Homo sapiens: one gene and its partners. The protein of the gene in region 2 purifies or fractionates together with the protein of the main gene of each other region. This does not show direct contact. Each region holds a gene or a part of one and is shown on either strand. Other genes may lie near its edges. The genes, in order: LARP1, GRIPAP1, GLMN, EIPR1, BMAL1, VPS50 and PKN3.

Region 1 (3,500 bases), on a different chromosome or scaffold from region 2:
GGTGGGCTTACCTAGGATTAGGTAGCCACATCTGCAAAATATACTGGGTGTGGGAGTGGTAACCCCATGTTGAAAGGCCTAAGGAGGATTGACCAGGTATGAGTCCTTGGGCAAATCACTGCATTCCCAAACCTTGATTTCTTCACCTGTTTGAAATAGGCATACCAGTTCCTAGCTCACCACTGTGAACTTTATACGAGAATGAATATGAAAATGCTGTTGTAAAATGTGAGAGATCATGCCCATCTTAGTCCTACAAGTGCTTGATGCTCCTCAGAGTTGTAGGAGTACAAACAGTAACAAACCCTGGGCTAACCTTTGCAGATGCCTCGAAAAAGAAAGACAAGACACAGTTCAAACCCACCCTTGGAGAGCCATGTGGGCTGGGTGATGGATTCCCGTGAGCACAGGCCCCGTACTGCTTCCATCAGGTACCTGGGGCAGTGGGGGAAGAGTGATCAGGCTGCCTATGGGATGGGTGGGCGAGCCATGAAATTGACTGGACCAAGAAGATTGGTCTGAAAATTAAAGGGACCCTCATCTAAGAGGTTTTCAAAAAACCAGTGGTGTGGAAAGCTCAGCCCAGGACCTGGGAATGACGGGTAGGCTTTTTTCCTAAAGAAGTGGTGTGGCAGTCACGTGAGACCAGATTTTCATACATGCAGAGAGAAAATCTCTGAATTGGTTTCCAAGCCTGGCTATCTACTTTCTGTCTGAGGAAGAATAGCCAGGTAGTTGAATAAACAGATTTCTGGCAGTCTCTCTGAGCCTACTATGTCTTGGGAGGCTACTTGAAAAGTTTTAAAAATTAAAAAAATACATATTTATTGGCCCCAACCTGTATCTGCTGACCCTGCTTCTTGGGGTAGGGCCCACACTCTTTTTTATTTATTTCAGTAAGATGGCCCCAGTGTGTGTTTCCTGTTTCCCAAAGCAAGCTTTGAGAGCCACCTACCTATGACCAATGCTCTCTACTCCCTGCAGAGATGGCACAGACTGCAAATAGGCATGCTTTTGAAGAAAATATACAATTGATCTTTGAACAACGAAGGGCGTGGGGTGCCCAGCTGCACACAGTTGAAAATCCGTGTATAACTTTTGACTCTCCAAAAGCCTACTGTTAACCAGAAGCCTTACCAATAACATATAGTCAATTAGCACATGTTTTGCATATTATATGTATTACATACTGTATTCTTACAATAAGCTAAATAAAAAATATTACTAAGAAAATCACAAAGAAGGGAACAACAAACACTGGGGCCTACTTGGTGGGGAGAGGGAGGAGAGTGAGGTACAGTTTACCTACTTAACAAACCTGTACACATACCTCTGAACCTAAAATAAAAGTTAAAATCATAAGAGAAAATATTTACTGTTCAGTAAGTGGAAGTAGAATCATCATAAAGGTCTTCATCGTCGTGGTCTTCATGTTTAGCAGGCTGAGAAGGAGGGGTTGGTCTTGCTCTCTCGAGTGGCAAAGGGGAATCATCATAAAGGTCCTCATCCTCATGGTCTTCACATTGAGCAGGCTGAGAAGGAGGGGTTGGTCTTGCTGTCTCAAGAGTGGCAAAGGTGGAAGAAATCTGCGTATAAGTGGACCCACGCGTGGATCCATGCATTTCAAACCCATGTTGTTCAAGGGTTCACTGTAGATGGATTGACCCATGATGGCTCATTAAAAGGTTAAATGCTTAAAGTTAATAAATGGTTAAAAGCTCAAGTTTTATCATTGGACACGTTTCTGCCATTAAATAGTCTTATGACCCTGGATGAGTCTCCTAATCTCTGTAAGCCTCAGTATCCTCTGTAAAACTCTCTGAGAGTTGATGCAGAGTTAATCAGACCCATGGATATAAGTTAAAGGTCCGTAACTGGGCCTCCTTGTTTGATACCCTGTGAGAGGATGGATCTTGGCTGACAGAACGGATCAGAGGGACCCCTCCTGACATGGTGGGGCTGCTGTGGGGAACCTGGTGACAGTATTTTTTGTGGTTTCTGTAGCTCCAGCCCCTCAGAAGGGACGCCTACAGTTGGCAGCTATGGCTGTACCCCTCAGTCATTGCCCAAGTTCCAGCATCCTTCCCATGAACTGCTCAAGGAAAATGGCTTCACACAACACGTCTACCATAAGTATCGTAGGCGCTGCCTTAATGGTAAGAAGTGTGGGGGGCAGGAGATGAGCCTCTGGGCCCGTTATTTAGACCCAGAGTATAAGAGTTGGGGGATACGGGGATAGGTGACTCTTTTCTCTGACTTCAGAGCAAAAAAAAGACATGACATTATAGCAAGAAAGACTGAAGTTAGACTCGGGCCAGGTAGTTTTAAACTGTAGGAAGCTAGGGGGATATGGCACTCACAACGTTCGTGTTCTTTGATCTTCCTCTATTGATTATTAAAGCTGTCAATTAAGTATTTCCATATCTCTGGCAAGATTACTGACTCAGCCATTGTCAGGTCTAGTCCACTGTCCATCACAAAAGGGTATGTAAGAGGTGACATATGCTCTCTAGAACAAAGGTTGCCAAACTGGCCTGTGAGTCAAATCCAGCCAGTATTCTGTTTTCGTATGGCTTTGGAGCTAAGGACAGTTTTTACATTTTTAAGGGGTTGTAAGAAAAAAAGATTTGTGACAGAGACTATATGTCTTCTGTAAAGCCTGAAATATTTGTTCTCTGTCCCTTTACAAAAGTAGTTTGCTGATCCCCTCTCTAGATGATAGTGTAAGGAACGAGCCTGTCTAGATGCTCTTGTCTGTCCCTGCTCTTTTAGTATTCTGATAGGTTGGCTGTAAAGACGCGCAAAACCAATCTAGTCACCTGTAGTTATTAACTCATTCATCCTCTTTCATTCAACAAAACGTGGTTGCTAAATTCTTGATTCATCCACTTCACTTCTCTCTTTCTTACTCTATGTGTAATAACAGCTTTATTGGGATATAATCTACATATGATGGAACATACCTAAAGAATACAATGTAATAGCTCTAAGTGTACTCATATAGTTGTGTGCCCATCACCAGAATCAATTTTAGAACATTTTCATTACCCCCAAAATGCTATGCCCCTTACCAGTCATACTCATTATACATGCAAACTACTCCCCACCCCCAGAATCCTCCCAGCCCTATGAAACTACTAACCTACTTTCTGCCTCTAAGGATTTTGCCTATTCTGGACATTTCACATAAATTATACTGTATGTGGTCCTTTGTTACTGGCCTCTTCCCCTTAGTATATTTGGTATACTAACAAATACACAGCAAGGTTCATGTCATAGCATGCATCAGTACTTTATTCTTTTTATTGCCAAATCATATTCCATCGTATGGATGTATCACATTTTGTGTATCCATTCATCAGTTGATTGGCATTTGGGTTGTTTCTACTTTTTGTCTATTGTGAATGATGCTACTGGGCATATTCACATACAGGTTTCCTGTAGACGTAGTTTCTCCTTTATTTTGGTTAGAAGAGTAGTATTGCTGGGTCATGGGGTAA
Region 2 (3,500 bases):
TGAGAGAAGCTGGAGCTGTAGGTTCTTCCTTTCCCCTTACCCTGGCTGGAACAGCCGAGCTCTCCTTTTCCCGCAAGATCTCCCGGTAGCTGAAGGAGGAGATGCTACTGCTGTCCCCTGTCTGGGTCCGGCTTGGTGAGTTCATCTCTGAGAGAACCAGCTCCTCAAGGCCTGGGTGGTGGAGGGAAGAGAAACTTGAGCCCCAATACCCCTGAGTCCCAGGGCAGCAACCAGCAGGAAGAGGCAGAAATAGATTTAACAGAGATGGAAAGAGAGACACCTGGGCATGGGGAAAGGCAGAAGCAGACAGGAGGACAGGGAGAGACAGAGACAGAAAAAAGAGCTGAGGCTGGGCGCACTGGCTCACACCTGTAATCCCAGCACTTTGGGAGGCTGAGGTGGGCTGATCACTTGATGTCAGGAGTTCGAGAACAGCCTGGCCAACATGAAGAAACCCCGTCTCTACTAAAAATACAAAAATTAGCCAGGTGTGGTTGTGTGTGCCTGTAATTCCAGCGATTCAGGAGGCTGAGGCAGGAGAATCGCTTGAACCCAAGGAGGCGGAGGTTACAGTGAGCCGAAATCGCACCATTGCACTCCAGCCTGGGTGACAGAGTGAGACTCTTGTCTCAAAAAAAAAAAAAAAAAAAACAGAAAGAAAAGAAAGAGCTGCCTTTCTGGAGAAACACATACAAAATGAGAGGGAGAAAATGGAAGAGGTTGGAGAAAGAGAACGACATGGGTACACATGGGTCTCAAGTGGCAGACACACTTGGACACAGGGTTCAGAGAAAGGAAGACAGCTAGAGAGGGCACAGGGCACATCCACTTGCAGAAAGAAAATGCCAGAGATGGAAAGCCAGAGCAGATGATAGAAACTGAGACCCTGGTGAAAGAAGTGAGCCAGAGCAGAGACAGAGAGAAAAAAAGATGCCGGGCGCGGTGGCTCACGCCTGTAATCCCAGCACTTTGGGAGGCCGAGGCGGGCAGATCACGAGGTCAGGAGATCGAGACCATCCTGGCTAAAACGGTGAAACCCCGTCTCTACTAAAAATACAAAAAATTAGGTGGGCGTGGTGGCGGGTGCCTGTAGTCCCAGCTACTTGGGAGGCTGAGGCAGGAGAATGGTGTGAACCCGGGAGGCGGAGGTTGCAGTGAGCCGAGATCGCGCCACTGCACTCCAGCCTGGGCGACAGAGCGAGACTCCGTCTAACAAAAAAAAAAAAAAAAAAAAAAAAGAAATGCAAGCAGGCTCTCGTACCCACGCACCTAAATCTCAGTTTAATCTAATGGACAAGGTGAATGTATTGAATGTATGGTATACGATTGTAACGTTTCCCAAGATTATTATTATTATTATTTTTTAGACAGAGTTTCAGTCTTGTCGCCCAGGCTGGAGTACAATGGCGCAATCTCGGCTCACTGCAACCCCTGCCTCCTGGGTTCAGGCAATTCTCCTGACTCAGCCTCCCGAAGTAGCTGGGATTACAGGCGCCCGCCACCACACCCAGCTAATTTTTTGTATTTTCAGTTGAGACGGGGTTTCACCGTGTTGGCCAGGCTGGTCTTGAACCCCTGACCTCAGGTGATCCACCCACCTTGGCCTCCCAAAGTGCTGGGATTACACCTTTCCCAAGATTCTTACATTCATCTGTGATAAAACAGAAACAAAACTCCTTTTTAAAGAAAGGTTACTTCAGGAGACCGAGTGCCTCAGAGAGAAATTGATTTGGTGAGAGATACACATCTGTTTTGCCACATCACTTAAAGCCCTCGAGGATCTCTGGCAAGGGTGGGGTGACTGAGTGGGGATCCGTAGGTATCCCGAGTGGGGGAATAAGGGACCAAGTTTTCTCTGAGTCTGTAATCTAAGAGATGCACCAGAGCCATCACTGCATTTTACTTACTTAAATGTATTTATAGGCCATCCCCGTCTTAAAAAAGGCTGAAGCAACTAAAGTTGTGTGTGTGTGTGTGTGTGTGTGTGTGTGTGTGTGTGTGTCTTCTGCTTGAAGTGGCAGAAATAACAGATTGGATTAGCTGTATAATGAAAACACCACAGCGTTGCTGACTATGTATAAGTCTGTCTCCGTAGCTCAACTGGGGGCTTCTAGAGGGCAGAGACTCAGGGAGTTTTATATCAGGGACCCTGTACTTGAGCAGGGAGATTTATAGAATGAGAGATTGTATACAATAGATTTAGAAATGCCAAGTGAGGTGTGGGAGTGTGTAATGTAGTACATACAGTGAGGAGACAGACAGAGATATAAACAGAAGAGACGAAGAGGACACAGAGTGGCGGGAAGAGATAAAGGGACAGAGAAAAGAAAGGGCGGGGGCCGGGCCCAGTGGCTCATGCCTATAATCCCAACACTTTGGGAGGCTGAGGCGGGCGGATCACCTGAGGTCGGGAGTTCGGGACCAGCCTGACCAACATGGAGAAACCCCGTCTCTACTAAAAATACAAAATTAGCTGGGCGTGGTGGTGCATGCCTGTAATCCCAGCTACTCAGGAGGCTGAGGCAGGAGAATTGCTTGAATCCAGGAGGCAGAGGTTGCGGTGAGCCGAGATCACACCATTGCACTCCAGCCTGGGCAACAAGAGCGAAACTCTGTCTCAAAAAAAAAAAAAGAGAGAGAAAAGGAGAAAACTAGAGAAAGAAAGCAAGGAGATAAAGGCAAACATAGAGGAAAGAGAGAGAACAAACTGAGACAGAGGCAGAGACAGAAACAGAGAAGAGACAGGGCAAAAACGAGAGAAAGATAGAAATAAAGAGAGAATGCAGAGAAAGAATCAGAGGAGAGACAGAGAAAAGGTAAAAGATGGAGTTCCAGAGCGACAGAAGCAGGAAAGCACAGCTGAGGAAGATGCAGGACTAACCTGCAGCCTGCAGGCCCAGGCCCTACCTCCCCCATGCCTCAGCCTCCTCTCCCTGTCCTAGTCCCTCACCTGAGCGGCTCTTGCTGTTAGTGAGGATGTCCTGCAGTCGCTCCTGCAGCTTATCTGCCCGTTTCCGCTCCAAATGCAGCTGCCGCTTGAGGTCCTTGAGCTGTGGGGGACAGGGGTAACATGAGGACTGAGGCCCAGTGGGCCCATAGGAGGGAGGCTACAGGTAGGAGGGAGCCGTGCTTGGGCACCGCTCTGTCTTACCGCAGCACTGCCCTTCTTCTCCAGGATCCTCTGCCCATCCACTGTGTCCTTCACCTCCTGTGGGAGAAAGCAGGCATGGCTGGTAGATGCCGGAAGGGCTGCCTGAAGCATGCTCCCTCCCTGCCCCTCCTGTACGCTGAGGATCAGGGGTGTGTCTGGGGCTGTGCAGTGACCACTGACCTGCTTCAGGCTGCTAATGGTCTTCAGGTGGCAGTCCCGCTCCTCCTGGGCCTGCTCGAGCTGATCCCGTACATCCTGTAGCTCCTCCTCCTTGCCCTGCAAAGCAGAAAGCAGCTTAGGCATTGGCTTGGGAAGCCTCTGTCCTCCCAGGAGGGCCCGTCACTGTCTG
Region 3 (3,500 bases), on a different chromosome or scaffold from region 2:
GATCAGCTTCCAATGGTCTTAAGGTAAGAGTTAGTGTTTGGTTTATTCATGTATTCTAAAAGGAATTTCATAAAATTCTCATTTATCTAATGTCCAATATATGCATATTAACACACTAATACATTTTAAATAAATAGTAAAGGCTATTTTTAATAAGAATGATCCCAGCTATAATCTGTTAAAGATAGCAGTAGACAAGTAATGAAAGTGGGGAGTGTTGAAATAGGTGTAAGGGAATGGTGGGGACAAGAATCAGAAGATGATAAACAGGGCTTGGTTTTGAAGCTTTTGAGACCACCCTGGAACTAGCCAGGTACCCAGGGGTATCATCATCTTTTCACTGGATTACTGCTGTAATCCTGAGTGGATTTATATATCTACTTTTACTTCCTTTTAATTTAACACATTCTCAACATACCAGAAAGCGAAGCCTTAAAAGAAGTCCCTTACTGAAAACCCTCCAGTGGCTTTTTATTGCTTTAAGAATAAAGTCTTAATGCCTTTGCATAACTTCTGAGACAAACTTGTGCCTGGTCTGGTCCCTGCTTAATTGACCTGATTCATCTCCTACCACCTTTCCTCTTGTTTACTATGCTCCAGTGACACAGACCTTCTTTTGTTTCTAGTTTAAATGTTATGAATTTTCCTATTTGGCCTTTGTATATGCTTAAAATTCTCTTTATCCTTAAATGTCACTTTCTGAAGAAAGCCTTCACTCACCACCCAATTTAGGTTGAATCCTTCTATTATAATTACCTTGACCTTGTCTTCTTTTCCCACAATGTTTATTAAAATTATTTTTAAAATATATAATTTTATAATGTAATATCTTCTGGACTTTGAGTTCTATGATAATAAGGATTGTGTATTTGTCTTATAGGCATTGGGTATTTGTGTGAGTTTGTGCATTTATATATGAATATAGCTAGGAGTACATTCGTATGTAAATGTTGAAATACTGGCTATCATTTGCATGTTCACCATGTATGAAACATTATGCTAATAACTTTATATGCATTATCTCATCCTTATAATAAGCCTGTGAAATAGAGCATTCTCTCATTTTACAGATGAAAATAACAGGCTTAGACAAGTTAATATACCACTGAAGATCTAACTACTTTGTGGCATAGGTGGGATGCAGATAGCTCTGTCTGACCCCAGAGCCTATACTCTTAAGCATCACATTCTATCACCAAAATAACTTATACAGCATATGTATATTAACTTGCTAGGGCTCCTGTAAAAAAGTGCTACCAACTGGATGGTTGAAATAACAGAAATAGTTTGTCTCATAGTTCTGGATGCTCCTTCTGAGGGTTGTGAAGGAGAATCTTCTCCATGCCTCTCTCCTGGCTTCTGGTGATTTGCTCACAATCTTTGATGGTCTTTGGCTTGTAGATGCATTATCCTGTTCTCTGCCTTCATGTTCGTATGCTGTTCTCCCTGTGTGCTTGTGTCTGTCTCCAAACTTTCCTTTTACATAAGGACAACAGTCATATTGGATTAGGGCCCACCCTAATAATCTCATTTTAAATTGATTACCTCCATAACCCTATCTCCAAATAAGGTCAAATTCTGAGGTACTAGAGGTTAGGACTCCAACATATCTTTTTTGGGGGAGATACAATTCAACCCATAACAATATGTATGTGTGTACATATCTCTGTGTGTGTGTATAATATATATATTTGTTTTGTTTCTATTTTAGCCCATTGTACCTTTTGCAGTTTAATATGGGGCACATTGAAGTCTTTTTGCAAAGGTAAGATCGTTTAGATGGTATCTCAAAATGAAATAGTAGTGTTAAAATAGTCCTTGTTAAGATCAGCGGAGACTGCCTTTTCTTTGCTAAGCTCTAATTAATTAATTGGTTATTTTATAAAACAGCGAGGCAAATAATTCACGAGAGAGACAGAAATGAGTCAAGGAGGTTTTACACCAAAGTCTGTTTTATTTTAAACTTAAGACAGTATTAAGATTTTGTCTTAAGGGCTTTTACAGTCATCTGTTTCTAAGGTTTCTTCTCTTACTCCAAAAGTTGGTAAATTAAAACACCTCTACCCCACTGCATCCTCCTCCATCTTAAGGAAGGGCAGTCAATAAAAGAAGTTCTTCCGTATTTTTCCTTCATGGACACAGTCTGTGAATTGCATCAAAAGGAAGGAGGTGTCTTGACTTCCACCTTTTATAATTTAGATTATTGACAGTGATGTCATTCAATTACAACTTTTCTCATTTGAGGTGCTAAGCAGCAGGACTTTCTATTTAAAAAAAAAAAAAAAAAGCCAGGCACGGTGGCTCACGCCTATAATCCCAGCACTTTGGGAGACCAAGGCGAGAGGATTGCTTGACCCCAGGAGTTCGAAACCAGTCTCTCTCTCTACAAAAAATAGAAAAAATTAGCCAGGAGTGGTGGCGCCTGCCCGTTGTCCCAGCTACTTGGGAGGTTGAGGTGAAAGAATCACCTGTGCCTGGGAGGTCTGGGCTGCAGTGAGCAGAGATCATGCCACTGCAGTCCAGCCTGGGCAACAGAGTAAGACCCTGTCGCAAAAGAAAAAAAAAAAAAAAAGGAAATTACAGAGTAACAGGTATACATAATTTCTAGACAGAAATTAAAGAATTTCACAGAACTATATGCTTTGTTTTCTTTCACTATAACATGTAACATGTTTAAATTATCCCCTGAGATCAGTTAGGGCTTTGCAATTATCCTCTATGAACACTAGTGACAGTTTATCAGTCCCATCTCTTACCAGGTGAAGGAAGATTTGTAACATGGCAATGTCCAAAGCTTCAGCATACAAGGCAGGAATTTCCAAGGGTCTCCTGGCACAAGTAGTTACTAATTCTGTAAATTTGCTGTATTATGTATGTTTTAATGATTTTATATTCATTACATTTAGTTTCTGTTATTCATACAGTGATAATATGTATTGTTTTGAATCTAAGTCCTAAATTCTTGAGATTTCCAAACTGCAGAGTCATTGAGTCTTTTTTTGAATAAAAAGAATTGGAAAGATTTTACAGAATAATCAACTGGAATATATAGCATTGGTTATATCAGGTTTAGTTAGTTTCTTAGCACTTGCTGTTGAAGATCTATTGTTTTGAAGTTAGGAAATAATCCCTGAGTAGATTTATTTTGGTCAGATTTAGTGGCCTTAGCCAAACCGAAAGACAGATCAAAGATGGATTAAAACTTTTGATCAAGTTCTTCAACAGAATTTCTCCTTAATGATATGCATTTTAAAAGTGTTAAAATTTCAGTTTTTGCTGTATTTTTCATAAGATGAAGTATCATTCTAAAATAGTTTACAAATTCATGATAAATTTTAATATTATTTTTCAGAACAGAAGAGTCTGTTATCTCCAAAGGATTGGTAAGATGTTTGTTCCCATTATAACTTAAATACATAGTTATGTCAACAAATAACAGCTGTTGACTTCACTATATATGTATCTGCATATATTTTAATCTGTAGGAGCTGCTGGAGAAT
Region 4 (3,500 bases), on a different chromosome or scaffold from region 2:
GGAGAATTCTGTTCAGGTGTAAAGAAAGTGACTTTCCTGTAAACGCCAGCTCACCAAACTCCTTAACTATATCCACGTTGCCCTCAATAAAGCAAAAGTGGTACAGGTGAAGTAAGATTTTCCACTCTCAGGTAAGCTACCTCCCTTCAAAGTCTACACCAGATACAATGTTTAAGTGACCAGCTGGACAATGAAGTTTCCACGTATCCGGTTCATGTAGCGCTATTCACCTCTCTCCCCACAGTCCATCAACTTCACAGAGTAGAGAAGGCAATGGAGGAACCTCCAAGAAAATATAGATAAGAGAATCTACACTCACTTCAACTTTTACTCCATTCTGAAACCCTTCTAATGTTGTAACAAAGAGGGGTTTTTCTTTCTATTTTCTTTTAAAAACATAAACCCACAAGGATAGAAGAGCAATGAAGTTTTGGAAGCTGGAAAGAAACAGACCCTTAGAAAGATGGTCACTTGTTTTACTACAAAAATAACACTCAAGAGTGGAGAAAGGATGGTCTTTTCAATAAATGATGCTGGATCAATTGTATATCCATATGAAAGAAAATAAACTTGTATCCTACCTCATAACATACTCAAAAACCAATTCCAGCTAGACTGATGATAAAGACGTAAAGATAAAATAATACAAATCTTTTCAAGAATACATAGTAGAATATCTTCTCAGCCTTGGGACAAGCAAAGATTCCTTAAATGGCAGGAAAAAAAGCTGGATCATACAGAAAAAGACGAATAACATAGAATCTATTAAAATTAAGAACTTCTATTCACCAAAAGACCCTATTAATTGGACTTCATTAAAATTTAAAACTTCTTTAAAATCAAAATGAAAAACTCTGCTTTCAGAAAGACACTATTAAAGAAATGAAGCAGTGGCCGGGCATGGTGGCTCACGCCTGTAATCCCAGCACTTTGGGAGGCCAAGGCAGGCGGATCATGAGGTCAGGAGTTTGAGAGCAGCCTGGCCAACATGGTGAAACCCCGTCTCTACTAAACATATAAAAATTAGCTGGGCATGGTGGTGGGCGCCTATAATCCCAGCTACTTGGGAGGCTGAGGCAAGAGAATTGCTTGAATCTGGGGGGTGGAGGTTGCAGTGAGCTAAGATTGTGCCACTGCACTACAACCTGGGCAACACAGCGAGACTCCATCTCAAAAAATGAAGGAAGGAAGGGAGGGAGGGAGGGAGGGAGGGAGGGAGGGAAGGAGGGAAGGAAAGAAAGGAAAGAAAGAAAACAAAAGAAAAGAAAAGACAGACTGGGGGAGATATTTATAATACATATATCTGACAAAAGGCCTGTATCCAGAATAAATATAAAGACCTCCCACAGCTTAATAATGAAACAACCCAATTTTTTTAAATGTACCTTACGCCAAATCAGACACTTCACAAAAGAAAACATATGAATGGTCAACAAGCACCAGAAAAGATGCTCAACATTATTAATAATTGGAAGGAGGCAAAGTGAAACCATGTGAGACTCACCACACATCTTACTAGAGTGGTGAAATTTTCATTTAAAAAAGACCAACAATAGCAAGTATTGGCAAAGATGTACAGTAACTGGATCTCTCACGGATTGTGAAAAAAGAGTGTAAAACAGTACACACATTTTGGAAAACACTTTTGCAGTTGAACATTCACTTACCAGATGACCCAATAATTCCACTCTTAGAAGAAGCTGTCACAAAGCTTGGCTTGTTGATAATAAGCTTTGTCCAGCTTTCTGACTTGGGCAGTTAAACCCAGCCCCAAGTAAATGTGGTCGGGTGACGGTATGTAACTGCCAGAAGTCAGGGGGTGGCAATTATCATAATGACCAACGAGACCAGAGTGCCGGCCAAGGAAGCTCAACTGGCAGAGGGCTGTGGAGACAGTTAATAGAGTTGGTATTCCTAGGGGTGAAACAGACAAGGCATTCAAGGAGAGTACTGCCTGCCTGACACATGCACACATGAGTGCAAACGTACATAACGTACATACATATTAAAAAGAAAACAAGAATGAATGAGCAGAAGGCTGAGGGAAGTCACCCCACTCACAGTCACAATCCCTTACCCAGATCCAGATTTGAGGCAGCTTCAGAGCTGGAACCCACTGACGGTAAAGATGGTCAGATTCCCCACGGGTTAGGAACCTGCAACCCTAGGGCAGGTGTACACTGCAATGATTACCCTAGTCTGTACCCAAAGGGACCCACGGCCATTTTCCTGAATGCCATTCCCTGGGCAAAGGGTAATCCCCACACATTTCCAGGTCTGCTGAACACAAAGACACGCACAGGGGTCCAGCAACCCAGTGTCCCACTGTCCTCCGGCCCGAGTGGGGCATGGGGATGCCAGGTGATAAGTAAAGTCCTAGGCAGGGCCTGGCTTACCGCAGATCCTCTGAGTCTGTGGGCGCACCTGGTGGGCAACTCCAAGGTCTGTTAAGGTCAAATGGGATTGACATCCTGGGCAGTTTGTGAAATACCCATACCGGGCCTGTGACCTGTGGAGTTAATGGGAAGGTCACATAGAAGCCTCTGAAACTGCCTCCCCGTCCCAACCCATCAAAGAGTGGTAGAGACCTGCGCTTACTTTAAGAATCAAGGATATGAAGTGGGTGTGGCTTTGCTGAATTCACCATTGGCTTCTGCAGAAAGCTAATGGGCCCTGGAGAATGCCTGTGGATGACTCTAAGCTCAACAAAGCAGGAGCCCACTCAGATCCACAGTGCCAGCTGTGGAGTCTTGTTAGAGCAGATTCCCAGGCCCTCAGGCACATGATGTGTGTACACAGACCGTCAAATGCACGCTGTCCTATCCCAATGAAGAAAGAAGATGAGAAACCATCCGCATTCACAAGCAAAGGAAAACAGTATACACTCTTGCCACAGAGCTGTGCTGGTCTCCCATTTTCTATCATAATATAGTCCAAACAGACCTGGGCAGCCCACAGAACATCACATGGACCCACTGCATTCATGACATTACAGTGACAACGTAGGAGGAGCGTGCAGAAGACCTTGGCAAGACGGCAGGAAACACAAGCTATGGCAATTCCAGGACCTGCTACTTCTGCTGAGGACACCAGGACTTCCCCTCCAGAGCAAAAGCAGAAAAGACGCTGTAATGCCTGCCAGCCCTCTTCATTCTAGAGGTGACACATTATACACCTAGGAAGGCTGGACCAGCCCAGATGCTGGGGTAGCACGTAAGGCTGCCAGCTTAGGCCAAGAGGGCACTACAGCAAGATCAGGCTGGGGAGAGGCAGCCCTGCTTCTGGGGACGCCTAGTAGACCTGCTGGTGTGGAAGTTGTCAGTGGTAGAAAGCATGCAGTGTGGACTTTGTGGAGAGCCCGGTTGGAGTCACCACGTGGTCCCGGGGTTCTGGAGCAAGCCATGCCATCTGCAGCACAGAACCATGTCTTTTGATAAACAGCTCTGACCATGCCTCTGGGTCCTGATAATGGAGCTCCTGGCCATGGGGCACCAAGTGCC
Region 5 (3,500 bases), on a different chromosome or scaffold from region 2:
GGAGCTTCTCAGTGCGGATAGATGTACCTTTACTTTACAGGAATGCAGGAGTAGAGCTGTGAACTATCAGAGTGATCTGGACCTTAACAAAACATTCACTTTTTTTCAATCAAAGAGCTGCCCAGGATTAGTACTAGAAACCAAGCAGATCAGCTAGTTATTACTAGCTGTCTTGGGAGAGACTTCCTTTCCATATGAAAGAGAAGGAGCTTAGAAGCAGTCCACCTGGGTCTGAGTCCTGGGCCTGTCTCTCTACCTGGCTATGCTGAGACTTACTTAACCTCTTGCTCTCTGTTGATTTAAACCATAAAAAGAAAGCACTATTTCCCAAGAATTGTGTTAGGATTGTGAGGGCACTCAGGAAAGTTCCAGGAACACAGCCTGACATATAGTGAGTGCTTAAAAATTAATTAAATCTGTCTTTAAGAGCAGTCGAGAGGGAAGCAGTTATCATAAGTCTGTCCAAATTTGGGGAATAGAGAAGGTGGTAACCAGATTCTTCAGAACGAAACTTAATGTAACATAAGAAAAGGAAGAAAACACTGCTGCCGCTGGATTCTCTCAGGAGAATTAGAGGCTGGCCTGTTTTCCAATTGGCCATAAAGGGGCTGTTATCCCCCTATAGGTAACACAGCTCTTTTCCAACCCCACAGGATTAGTGGGTGTGACTTCTGCATCAGGAAGGAGACATGAGGGTAGTGTGCAGTGTAATCAGGTTCAAACCCTATACTTTGCATTTGCATACCCTGTATTTTGCTTGAGACCATCCAAGAACAGTATCAAACAGTCCTTGACCTCAAGAATTTTAAAATCTTTTATAAGTCTATTTTCTTTATGATAACAGGAAAAAGGGAGGGTGCATGGGCCAAAGCAAGCAAAAGAGGAAAGATTTGAACTTGGCCTTAGCCAGGGTTTGCAATAAGAGTGGATGTTCCCTCTAGAAAAGCCAGGGCTATTCTTGAGTGGGCATGTGAGTGGCAAATTCAGGGTCAAGAAACAAGCTACCTAACTGGGCAGGCTTTGTGTAGGAAGGAGACACAGAGCTATGATAGGCGATTAAGAAACACAAGAAATGATACTGTGCAGTTTGGAAGAAACCTGTAAGACCCCATTTGTTGTAGGATGCTGAACAAGCATCCAAAGTCTTGTGTTACGCTTTGTGGAAGTTGCATTGGAATAGGGAGAGATGAAGGTGGGCATGTTTGACAACTCAGGAATGAGGCCTTATCCTACAGAGATGACACTGCCAAAAGAGAAATCAATCATCTAAGGTCTAGCGTTTGAAGATGAAATCAGGAATGATGAAACAGCAATTCCAAGATGAGAAACCTGGGAAAATAGTGGTTTCATAGACATAAGTAGAGAAAGGTGGGGGACACTCAGCAATTTTTCCGTAAGCAATTAGCAGCCGTTTGTGCATGCTGAGAATACATGATATGTAGTTGTAAACTGCCGTTAAGAAGCTTCTAATCCAGAAAGAAAACTTGTTCACTCATAAATCTAGAGAACTAGGCAGTACAAGAACCAAAAGACTTCTGGGTGGTGGAGGAGTGGTCTCTGGGTCACCCAAAAGCTACATTCATCCATGTAGGAGCTGAGAGTCCTGTGGTTACACAACTGCCATCACACTCTCCCTAAACTGTAGCTGCAATGCCAAGTGATGGATTCTTTCCTGAGGTCCTTCAGCCTGACAAGTATTTAGGTGGATTTACAGTTCTAAGTCTTCCCTTCTATAAATCTTCTGAGAGATATGCTAGATAAGAAAGGCCTGGACCCATTTTTCATCAACCACTGCCTTCGAAGGCTGCTTTTCCTGTCACTACTACTAGGCTACCTTTTAGACCCTGGTGCCGTCCATGTCCTAAGAGTATTCACTAGCTAAACAGTGTTTGTGGAGAAGGGGACAAATTGTTTTCTGTGGATCAAAGATGGAGGTTGATCTTAGAAGTTCTCCTCCAATTCACCTGGATTCTGTGAGGAAATAAAACTGGCCACTTACTTGAAATTCACCAACTGAATGCAAACTCCAATCCAAGGGCTTTGTCAGTGAGATGCTTGACTCTAGGGACTGCATTCTAGATCAGGTGCCTGTAGAACAAATCCAGCTTGTCATCTGTTTTTGTAAATAAAGTTTTATTGGAACACAGCCACACCGATTCGTATCTGTGGCTGCTTTCAAGCTGCAGAGGCAGAGTTGAGCATTTGTGACAAGACACCATATGGCCTAGAGAGCCTACTATCTGGCCCCTTACAGAAAAAGCTTGCCAAACCCTAATCTAGATCTTCATCCCCTTTCTCACCTTTACCCCTTAACAAAGCACATACACTCCACTGAAAAAAGAAAAGGCAGTGTAATTCTCTTTTCTGACAGGATAAGAGGGTCATCGCCTTCTAGCTGTGGCTCCAGCCCATTGAACATCACGAGTACGCCTCCCCCTGATGCCTCTTCTCCAGGAGGCAAGAAGGTAAGACTGATGATTCTTAGCCTAAGCTAGAGAACCTCTTGCCCAAGATCTGAAATGTTGGGGGTGGGAGTATGGAATTGCAACTGCGATTGCTGAAACAATTTGGACTACTTCCTCCTTGAAGTAAATGCATCTGTGTGAGGCTGGATACAAAGCATACTGGTAGGGCTAGGGAGGCTTGCTGACATCCTCAGAGGCTTTCTTCCATGTGAGTGGAAGAAGGGAGAAAGAATAAGGAATGGGGAACTGTCAGTTCATTTAATTGAGGGAGCAATTCAAGAGTTCCCATGAGGGAAAGATTATTGAGTACCTCACATAGAAAAGTTTCTCATTTTCTGCCAGGAATTTTCAAGGGAGAAAATATTAGTGTCTAGGGCAGGCAATGGAAACAGCAATGCCACCAGCAGTGCTTTGGAAATCAAGCCATGCTTTATAGCTGCAGAATACTTGGGGATCTGCTGCCTGGGGGTTCCATTGGTGTGACAGCATTGGATCCAAGCAGTGGATCAATCACCAGCCCTCATGAAGAGCTTGCTATAAGACTACACTATAAATAGGTTTAGGAACCAGTCATTTGTTTTCATCTTTGCTGGAGAACTTATAAGCCTAGGCCCATCTTAATCGTAAATTATAAATCTGTTTATATTGCCTGATGCCAGTAGAGCTTAGGACAGTTTAAAGGCCATCATTTTGGACACAATGGCTTCCTTTCCCCATCTCCTAAAACAGAGAGAGAGAATATCAGGAATTTCCATAGGCAGGACTCCTAGGGCACAAACCATCAAAAGCAGGGCAAGGATTTTCAAAACTGAGCTCCTCGGAGGTTTGTTCAGGTTACCAAGAGCTGTGGTGTTACCAGGTGGGATGGGCGTGGGGATAGTTGCTAAGGAGAGAGGGTAAGAGTAGAAATCCTGCTTCTACAAGGGCAGCAATACTTCTTTTTTATACAGGAATCTTCTGCAAACATTTCTATTTGAAAAAGCGTTTTGCTCCCCCCAAAAAAGGTTGAAAGTTAACAAATTAATGGGTAAGACT
Region 6 (3,500 bases), on a different chromosome or scaffold from region 2:
ATACTCTTGATAGGCACTCTTTTCTTGTTCATCAGATTCATACTGAAGAAAACACAGGTTATTAAAAAATGAGTATAAAGGGCCTCTTTTCGTGGGGTGTCTCAACACAGTGAAAGTACTCAGTTTTATAAGAAACAGCTAAATACAAGAAAATTCTTAATTTAGCTTTAATGTTGTCACCAAGAATCTAATTATTCTTCCATTGTCTTCATCATTCTACCTCAATCAGCACAAAAGAAAAATATTACACCTATAAAAGCTTGAAAATGTGCAACAAAATCAAATCGCCATAAACCAAAACCTAACAAACATTCCACTAGGCCTAAAGAGTATACATTCGCATTTTTTTTTCTTAAAGTCTCTCAGAAGTTTCACCATACTTATTTCCAATTTGCTAATAAAACTCATTAAAAAGAGGTTCAGTATCCAATTCTGGCATTCTGGAAGTATTACTTCAGCTTAATAAACACATGCAACACACATGCTGATGTTCTAATTCACTATAAAATTTAATTCCGAGGGCAGCTTAGAAAATTAAGCTTAGAACACAGGGACCTGCTGAGAATGAGGACAAAAATGGTGGATTTACTCTTGAGACAAAGGGTGTCTTCCTAACATTTTCATCATCTTTATGGCACCATGGCCCAATGCCAGCATGGGAAAGACAGTGGAATTCATGCACACAGTAAAGGAAGCAGTGACAGCACTTTCATCATCATCATCATCATCATCATCATCATCATCATCTATTAATGTCATAGATTAATACGATTAAATGGCTAACATTAATATCATTAAGTAATAGCTAACACTGAGTTTTTAACCAAGTATTATGCTAAGTGCTTTCATGAATTATCTCATTTAATCATACAGACACTTCTATGAGGAAGTTTTATCTCCACATGACAGTTGAGGAAACCAGTATGATAACAACATGGAAAGAATTTAGCCCCCTAATTCAACAACTATTTTTTGAGAGTCTGTTAATAAAAAGCACTATGAAAGGTCGTATTTAAATGTGGACCCTGATTCTCAAGGACATAAGTTGCACCTGGAAAGATCAGATCACACATTAATAACTGCAAACAAGCCTTACAGGTACTCCTTTATACTTATACACAATGTGATCCTGATGCTATGCAGAAAGGTATTCTACATAAACTAGGATGTCCTGATTACAACAACAGAGGTTTGTGACCACACCGTATCATAGATACTCATTATTTGAGGATTCAATGTTTGCAAATTTGCCTACTCACTGAAATTTATTTGTAACCCTAAAGTCAATACTTCTGATATTTTTGGAGTCAGTCATAAACGTGCAGAACAGTGAAAACTTTGAGTCATCCAACATGCATGTTCCCAGCTGAATACAAACAAGGCATGCTCTGCCTTCTTGCTTAGGCTCTCATACTATAAACAAGTTTCCTTTTCTTGACCTATTTAGTGCCAAGTGCTTTGTATTTTTGTGCTTTTTGTTGGTGATTTAACTGTTTAGAATGCCACTGCAAGTGTTGCGTTGAAGTGCTGTCTAGTGTTTCTAAGTACAAGAAGGCTGTGATGTGCCTGAGAAACAAAATATGTGTGTCTGATAAGCTTCATTTAGGCAAGAGTTACAGCGTTGTTGGCTATGAATTCAGATTATGTACTGATGGGCTGATAAACATGTCGTAACCCGAGGCTCACAGGAACCTAATCCTATATTTGCTCTGGGAGTAATGGTTCAGTATTTGCTAATTTAGTATTCACAGCAACTTTATAGAACACACTGCTGCAAATAATGAGAATCAAATGCTATCTAAGTTTTAATTAATGAATCACTTTTATAGAGAGATATATTATTCCAAAATAATTGGAATGACTTTAAATTCCTCTCGGTTAAGCCAACTTCACAGAGGCAAAATGTCACAAAGAATCACTGAATCATAATTTTAAATATGGCTTACTATGAAACAATTTAAACTTAATGAATTTTGTCTTCACCAAATGAAAAATAAATTCTAAAACTAACATAAAATATAAAGACAAATCCTTCAACATATTTTGTCACATCTGAATGGTTTTCACTTTAGCTTCATCAAATCAAAAATAAAAATCATATTGGGTCATTATGGAAATTATGAAGATCAGAAGAAACCATCAAACAAAATATTAAGTCAAGTAAAATACTGTGAAAACACCATGCAGGAACTGTGAAGCAAGCATTCCTCTCCCTGTAAATATGGAGAAACTGAGGGTCACAAAGTTAAAATAATTTGCCAAGGGCCACACAGCTGATAAATAATAAAGATGATATTCATTATTTGCCTTCAAATCCTTTCCACTAACTCACACTACGTCTAGTTAATATTGTTTTTGAGGTCCTCAAAGTGTTGTTAAAACATTGTACTTCTAAATCTCAAAAAATATCCCTGCCAGGCAACTATGCAAGACATTACCACTTTCTCTTAGATAAAGGGACATGGAACAAAATGAATCAGTGACCCATAAAGGGTGTCGAGAAAAAGGGTAGATGATATCTATTCCGTCATCTCACAATATATCACATAATATTCACATAATATATCACGTAAATATTCAGTGAAGAAATTACACTACTACTTGATTAGCAACCTGATAAGAACATCATGTAATAAGAACATAAAGCAAACATAAAGGGAAAATTTACTATTCAAGAGGACAAGGTCAACAAAGCATATTGTAAAGTCATCATCTATAAATGTAATAGCATAGGTACATTAAGTATACAGGCAGGCAGGGTGGTAGTAAATGGATACGTAAATGTAGTGAATTGCCTTGTTCATTGAGTAGAACAGTTTTAAATAAAAAAAACTCACTTATGTTTCACATACACCACATACCCCATTAGAAGCTAAGACATCTTCTGTTTCTTCATCTTTGTGGTTGGCCTGAATTTCAAATGGATTCCCACCACTACAGTACTGCTCAAACAAGGTCACTGTTTTTGAAGAAGTTGAGACTGGCTGTTTACTAGGTGAAACTGATGGGGAGCGAGACTGTTCCATGAATTTAAATTCCTAGATGTTAAAAAAGGAGCCAGATACCCTTTAGCAACAATAAAATTCTAGTACATAAACCGAATCCCTCAATATACATGTAGAGTTAGTAGAAAAACAACATCTTGATCTTCAGTTTATTGACTTTTAAATCTTTCAAGTTATCTAAAAGCACAAACTTGGAAATACACATCTAAAGGTTTTCCTAAAGACAACTCAGTGAATGGTATCACTTAAAACAGTATCATCTGCATCAAGCTACTTTTGGCTTCCTTTAAGAAACTGCAGAGATCATTTTTTAAAATAGCTTAAGAAATCTGAATGATGTCTTCTAAAAATTTTAACAGAACAGCAAAAATCCTAATCAATAAAGTCATTTATGAAAACTAATTGTTAAACACTTCTCTTTTTCATATGCTTGCACCACTTAAGATATTCTGTACAAATACATCAGAAATAAAGTATGAAGTACATATCTGTGTT
Region 7 (3,500 bases), on a different chromosome or scaffold from region 2:
AATTAGTTTTTTTAGATGAGGTCTCATTCTGTTGCCCAGGCTGGAGATCTCTGCTAACTATAACCTCTACCTCCTGGGCTTAAGCAATCCTCTCACCTCACCCTCCCAAGTAGCTGGGACTAAAGGCACATGCCACCATGTCTGGCTATTTTTTATAGATGGGGTTTCACCATGTGATTCAGATTGGTCTTGAACTCCTGGACTCAAGTGATCCGCCTGCCTTGGCCTCCCAAAGTGCTGGGGTTACATGCATGAGTTACCACGCCTGGCCATAGAGTGATGGTTTCTATATGTCAGGGGCTCACAAGGAGCTCTGAACGTGCACAGCCACCAATGCCCCCATTTTACAGTAGAGCAAACTGACAGAGAGAAGAGGGGACCTGCCCAAGGAAACACAGTTAACAACTGCAGGTGCCAAAAGAGAATGCAGGCTGGCTGGCCCCACGGGGTCACCTCTCCAAAGCCCCAGGAACCTTCAACTGCCCTCTGGATGCCACAGCCCAGGCCAGCCATCCTGGGTGCCCTGCGGCACCCCCACACACCTCTCTATCTCGTCCCGGCTGAGCACCTCCTGCTTCTTCAGTGCTTTGATGGCGTAGTATTTCCCTGTCCCCTTGAACTGGACCAGGAGGACCTGGGGCCAGAGAGAGGTTGTGCTCCAGGTGGGCCAGACCAGGGAGCCTTTACCGCCCCCACAGATCAGGTCCTCCCGGCTCATGTGATGAGGCCCCCAATCCCGTCCCATACCACCCTCTTCAGCCCACTACCTTCCCAAAGTGTCCCCGGCCCAGCACAGCTAAGCAGCGGAAGTCCTGAAGCCGAGGGGGTTTCCTGCAAAGGAAGAGAGGGTATATGAAGTCCCCTAGGGCACTGGCTGGGCCCCTACCCAGAGCCACTCCAAGCCTCCCATGCCCAGTCCTGGGCTGTCCCGACCTATGGGCTCGAAAAAGCCCTGCAGTAAGGACTCCTAGAAGCCGGCATAGAGCTGGAGCTCAATAATGTGGGTTTAGTAAATCAGACCCCGAGAGCCAGTCAGCGCACCCGCCAGGGAGCCAGGGAGTAATGTATGAATGGATACACAAATGTTCAAGCAAGCAGACGAACGTCTCAAACATGAAGGTGCGCAGGATGGGGTACCTGGTGGGGGAGGCTGGTGGAGATGGCCCACGTCGAGTCCTAGGCTCCATATGGGGACGTTTGGTGCGCTGTGAGTATAGAGGAGCTCAGGGCAGGGCTGGGCTTCCTTCTCTCTTTCCCTTCAGGCCTGCCACCCCACAGCTGGGTGGCCCTGCCAGCCCCAGCCGGCCCTAGGAGCCACTAGTCCCTCCAGCCCCTCACCGGAGTCTCCTCGGATGTTGGCTCCTGGGGGAGGTAGAGGCGTGGGGGCTTGGGTGGGGGTGTCATCTCTTCACCCAAGGGGGTCTTCTTGGGCAGGAAATTACTGTAGGGAGAAAGTAGACACAGTGCCCAGCACAGGCAGACGCAAGAGCTGGCAGGATGGACACACCAACCCAAAGTGAGATGGACAGAGGGTTAGCGGGCTGAGCAATGCAGACAGACAGACAGATACCGCCTGGATCTGGAGTCAGGAAGCCGCCACAGAGGAGCATGCAGTCTAGGGCAAGGGAGCTCCTCACCTGGGAGTGGCAGGGTCAGAGGCCTCTCGCAGTGTTGTTGGGGTCCGAGGGCATCCTTTAGGGGGGCTGATTGTGCTCGGGGAGCTGCAGGGGGGCAGCAGGTTCATGACGAGGCGCCCCCAGGCCGCCATGCCGAGGTTCATCTGCGAAGCCCTCAGGAAGTCCTGGCCTGGGAGAAAAGGGGGAGCTTAGTCCCGGGACCCCAGCCCTGCTCCCTCACACATAGCCCCCATTCCCTCCACACCTCTGCGTTTAGAGAAGATGCGTTCCTGCCTCTGCAGCCGGGGCCGCCTCTCAATGACAGGATCGCAGAAGGTCACCTGCAGGGGTAGGGGCAGGGTTGTGGACCAGTCGCCTCCCATCTCATCTGCCATGGCACCTCCTCTGCCCCTGGGATTACAGCCCAAGCCCCCAGGGTCAACAGATGCAAGAGCCAGAAAGACCCAGAGAAACAGATTCAATGTCCTCATTGATACTAGTGGAGAAACAGAGGCCCAGGGAGGAGAGGCACTTTTCCAGGGTCACACCTGAGGCAGGGCAGTCAGGACAAGGACCCAGGCCTCCAGATGCAGCCCTGAGAGAGCGGCTAGGAGCCCTTATTCCTGGAGCCCTCCTCTCTGGTCGTCAGTCTCTGCACCTACACGCAGTGCATCGGTCTTGAAGGCCTTCCTGGCCCTGACGCCCCAGGGTCCCACCAAGTCAGAGGGCGGAGGTGGTGAGCACCTGGGCAAAAAGCAGTCCCTGCGGTACCAGGCTGAGGGACAGTTGGTGACAGGCATTGTCCAGGAAGTCCTCAAGTCTCAGGAAGGCCACGCCACATAGCTGCCGCCAGTCCCGCCAGTGTACCCCAATCTCCAGCTCACGGGCCTGTATTGGGGAGGCCAGGCTGAAGGGTGGGGTGCAGAACGAGCCCCGACCTGGGCAGCCTTCCACCCCGCAGCCCAAGGTCACCCCTGACCACACAAAGGCCAGCCTTACTCGCTCCAGTGGGATGACAAAGGTCTGGTCCCAGGACTGTTCGGCCACCTGCCCCCAGCCCGTCTGCCCCACAACACGGTTGTCCACCTTTAGCACAGCCAGCACCTCGCCTGCAGGGCCAGAGCCGGGACTCAGGGCAGGCCTGAAGCAGGGGTCTCCTGCTCCCCCTGAAGCTCCTTCCCTACTCACTGGCAAGCTCGCCTCGGCCACGCTGGTGCTTGGCCTTGGTCCGAAGCCAGCCCTCGGAGGGGCTGCTGGCCAGTGCGGCCGCTGGGGAGCGCCCAGGCACGGCTGTCAGCAACTGTTCACAGCCCAGGAGGCGGACCTGCAGTGTCCCTGTGGGGAGAGTGAGCGGGGGGCGTTGTCAGATGCCATCTTCCCACTGCTACCACCAAGGTGTCCTGGGACCCCAGGAAGGCCACCCTCTCCAGGAGGTGGCTGAACCCAGACCGTACCCACCTGAGGCCAGGGCAGTTACCTGAGGAACCTCACTCAGTGTGGCGGCCTAGAGTGCCTAGACTGGAGCCTGCTGACTGTCCTGCAGCTCCCAAGCACCATGAGCCCCCCAAAGGGTACCCTTGGACCCCGATGACACCCTAGGAGGCCTCCGACCTGGACACTCCCAGGTGAGGAGCCACGTTGTCCCAGAATGCACACTTCTCTGTGGCAGCCACCTCTTTCCAGGGCAGAGCAACTGGCTCTCCCCTCCACATGCTGGAGCGGCAGGGACATAGGCTCAGACCTCAGACCTTAGCCAGGCTGCACAGAGCCACAGCACATGACGAGATGCTGCCTAGAAGTGGGGCCTAGAGAGCACTGTGGCAAGGATAAGAGCTTGGGACAGGGAGCAGGAAGCCTGGCTTCCTGTCCGGACCCACCTGCTCC

What was found.
Region 1: the proteins of GRIPAP1 (region 2) and LARP1 fractionate together in Homo sapiens (co-fractionation; one large-scale study listed by BioGRID). This does not show direct contact.
Region 3: the proteins of GRIPAP1 (region 2) and GLMN fractionate together in Homo sapiens (co-fractionation; one large-scale study listed by BioGRID). This does not show direct contact.
Region 4: the proteins of GRIPAP1 (region 2) and EIPR1 purify together in Homo sapiens (affinity purification with mass spectrometry, with the first as the bait; one large-scale study listed by BioGRID). This does not show direct contact.
Region 5: the proteins of GRIPAP1 (region 2) and BMAL1 purify together in Homo sapiens (affinity purification with mass spectrometry, with the first as the bait; one large-scale study listed by BioGRID). This does not show direct contact.
Region 6: the proteins of GRIPAP1 (region 2) and VPS50 purify together in Homo sapiens (affinity purification with mass spectrometry, with the first as the bait; one large-scale study listed by BioGRID). This does not show direct contact.
Region 7: the proteins of GRIPAP1 (region 2) and PKN3 purify together in Homo sapiens (affinity purification with mass spectrometry, with the first as the bait; one large-scale study listed by BioGRID). This does not show direct contact.

Annotation. Positions count from the first base shown.
Region 1 is NC_000005.10:154,803,877-154,807,376, forward strand, and holds part of LARP1 (la-related protein 1), read left to right. Parts: intron 1-324; coding exon 325-431; intron 432-2,004; coding exon 2,005-2,156; intron 2,157-3,500. UniProt on the Homo sapiens protein: RNA-binding protein that regulates the translation of specific target mRNA species downstream of the mTORC1 complex, in function of growth signals and nutrient availability.
Region 2 is NC_000023.11:48,978,265-48,981,764, forward strand, and holds part of GRIPAP1 (GRIP1-associated protein 1), read right to left. Parts: intron 3,428-3,500; coding exon 3,332-3,427; intron 3,209-3,331; coding exon 3,152-3,208; intron 3,051-3,151; coding exon 2,951-3,050; intron 172-2,950; coding exon 41-171; intron 1-40. UniProt on the Homo sapiens protein: Regulates the endosomal recycling back to the neuronal plasma membrane, possibly by connecting early and late recycling endosomal domains and promoting segregation of recycling endosomes from early endosomal membranes.
Region 3 is NC_000001.11:92,267,988-92,271,487, reverse strand, and holds part of GLMN (glomulin), read left to right. Parts: coding exon 1-23; intron 24-1,711; coding exon 1,712-1,765; intron 1,766-3,352; coding exon 3,353-3,383; intron 3,384-3,485; coding exon 3,486-3,500.
Region 4 is NC_000002.12:3,259,319-3,262,818, forward strand, and holds part of EIPR1 (EARP and GARP complex-interacting protein 1), read right to left. Parts: intron 1-3,500. UniProt on the Homo sapiens protein: Acts as a component of endosomal retrieval machinery that is involved in protein transport from early endosomes to either recycling endosomes or the trans-Golgi network.
Region 5 is NC_000011.10:13,378,790-13,382,289, forward strand, and holds part of BMAL1 (basic helix-loop-helix ARNT-like protein 1), read left to right. Parts: intron 1-2,371; coding exon 2,372-2,465; intron 2,466-3,500. UniProt on the Homo sapiens protein: Transcriptional activator which forms a core component of the circadian clock.
Region 6 is NC_000007.14:93,305,366-93,308,865, reverse strand, and holds part of VPS50 (syndetin), read right to left. Parts: intron 3,039-3,500; coding exon 2,862-3,038; intron 43-2,861; coding exon 1-42.
Region 7 is NC_000009.12:128,712,503-128,716,002, reverse strand, and holds part of PKN3 (serine/threonine-protein kinase N3), read right to left. Parts: intron 2,952-3,500; coding exon 2,805-2,951; intron 2,726-2,804; coding exon 2,616-2,725; intron 2,505-2,615; coding exon 2,361-2,504; intron 1,958-2,360; coding exon 1,882-1,957; intron 1,807-1,881; coding exon 1,638-1,806; intron 1,442-1,637; coding exon 1,339-1,441; intron 1,206-1,338; coding exon 1,138-1,205; intron 832-1,137; coding exon 768-831; intron 635-767; coding exon 543-634; intron 1-542.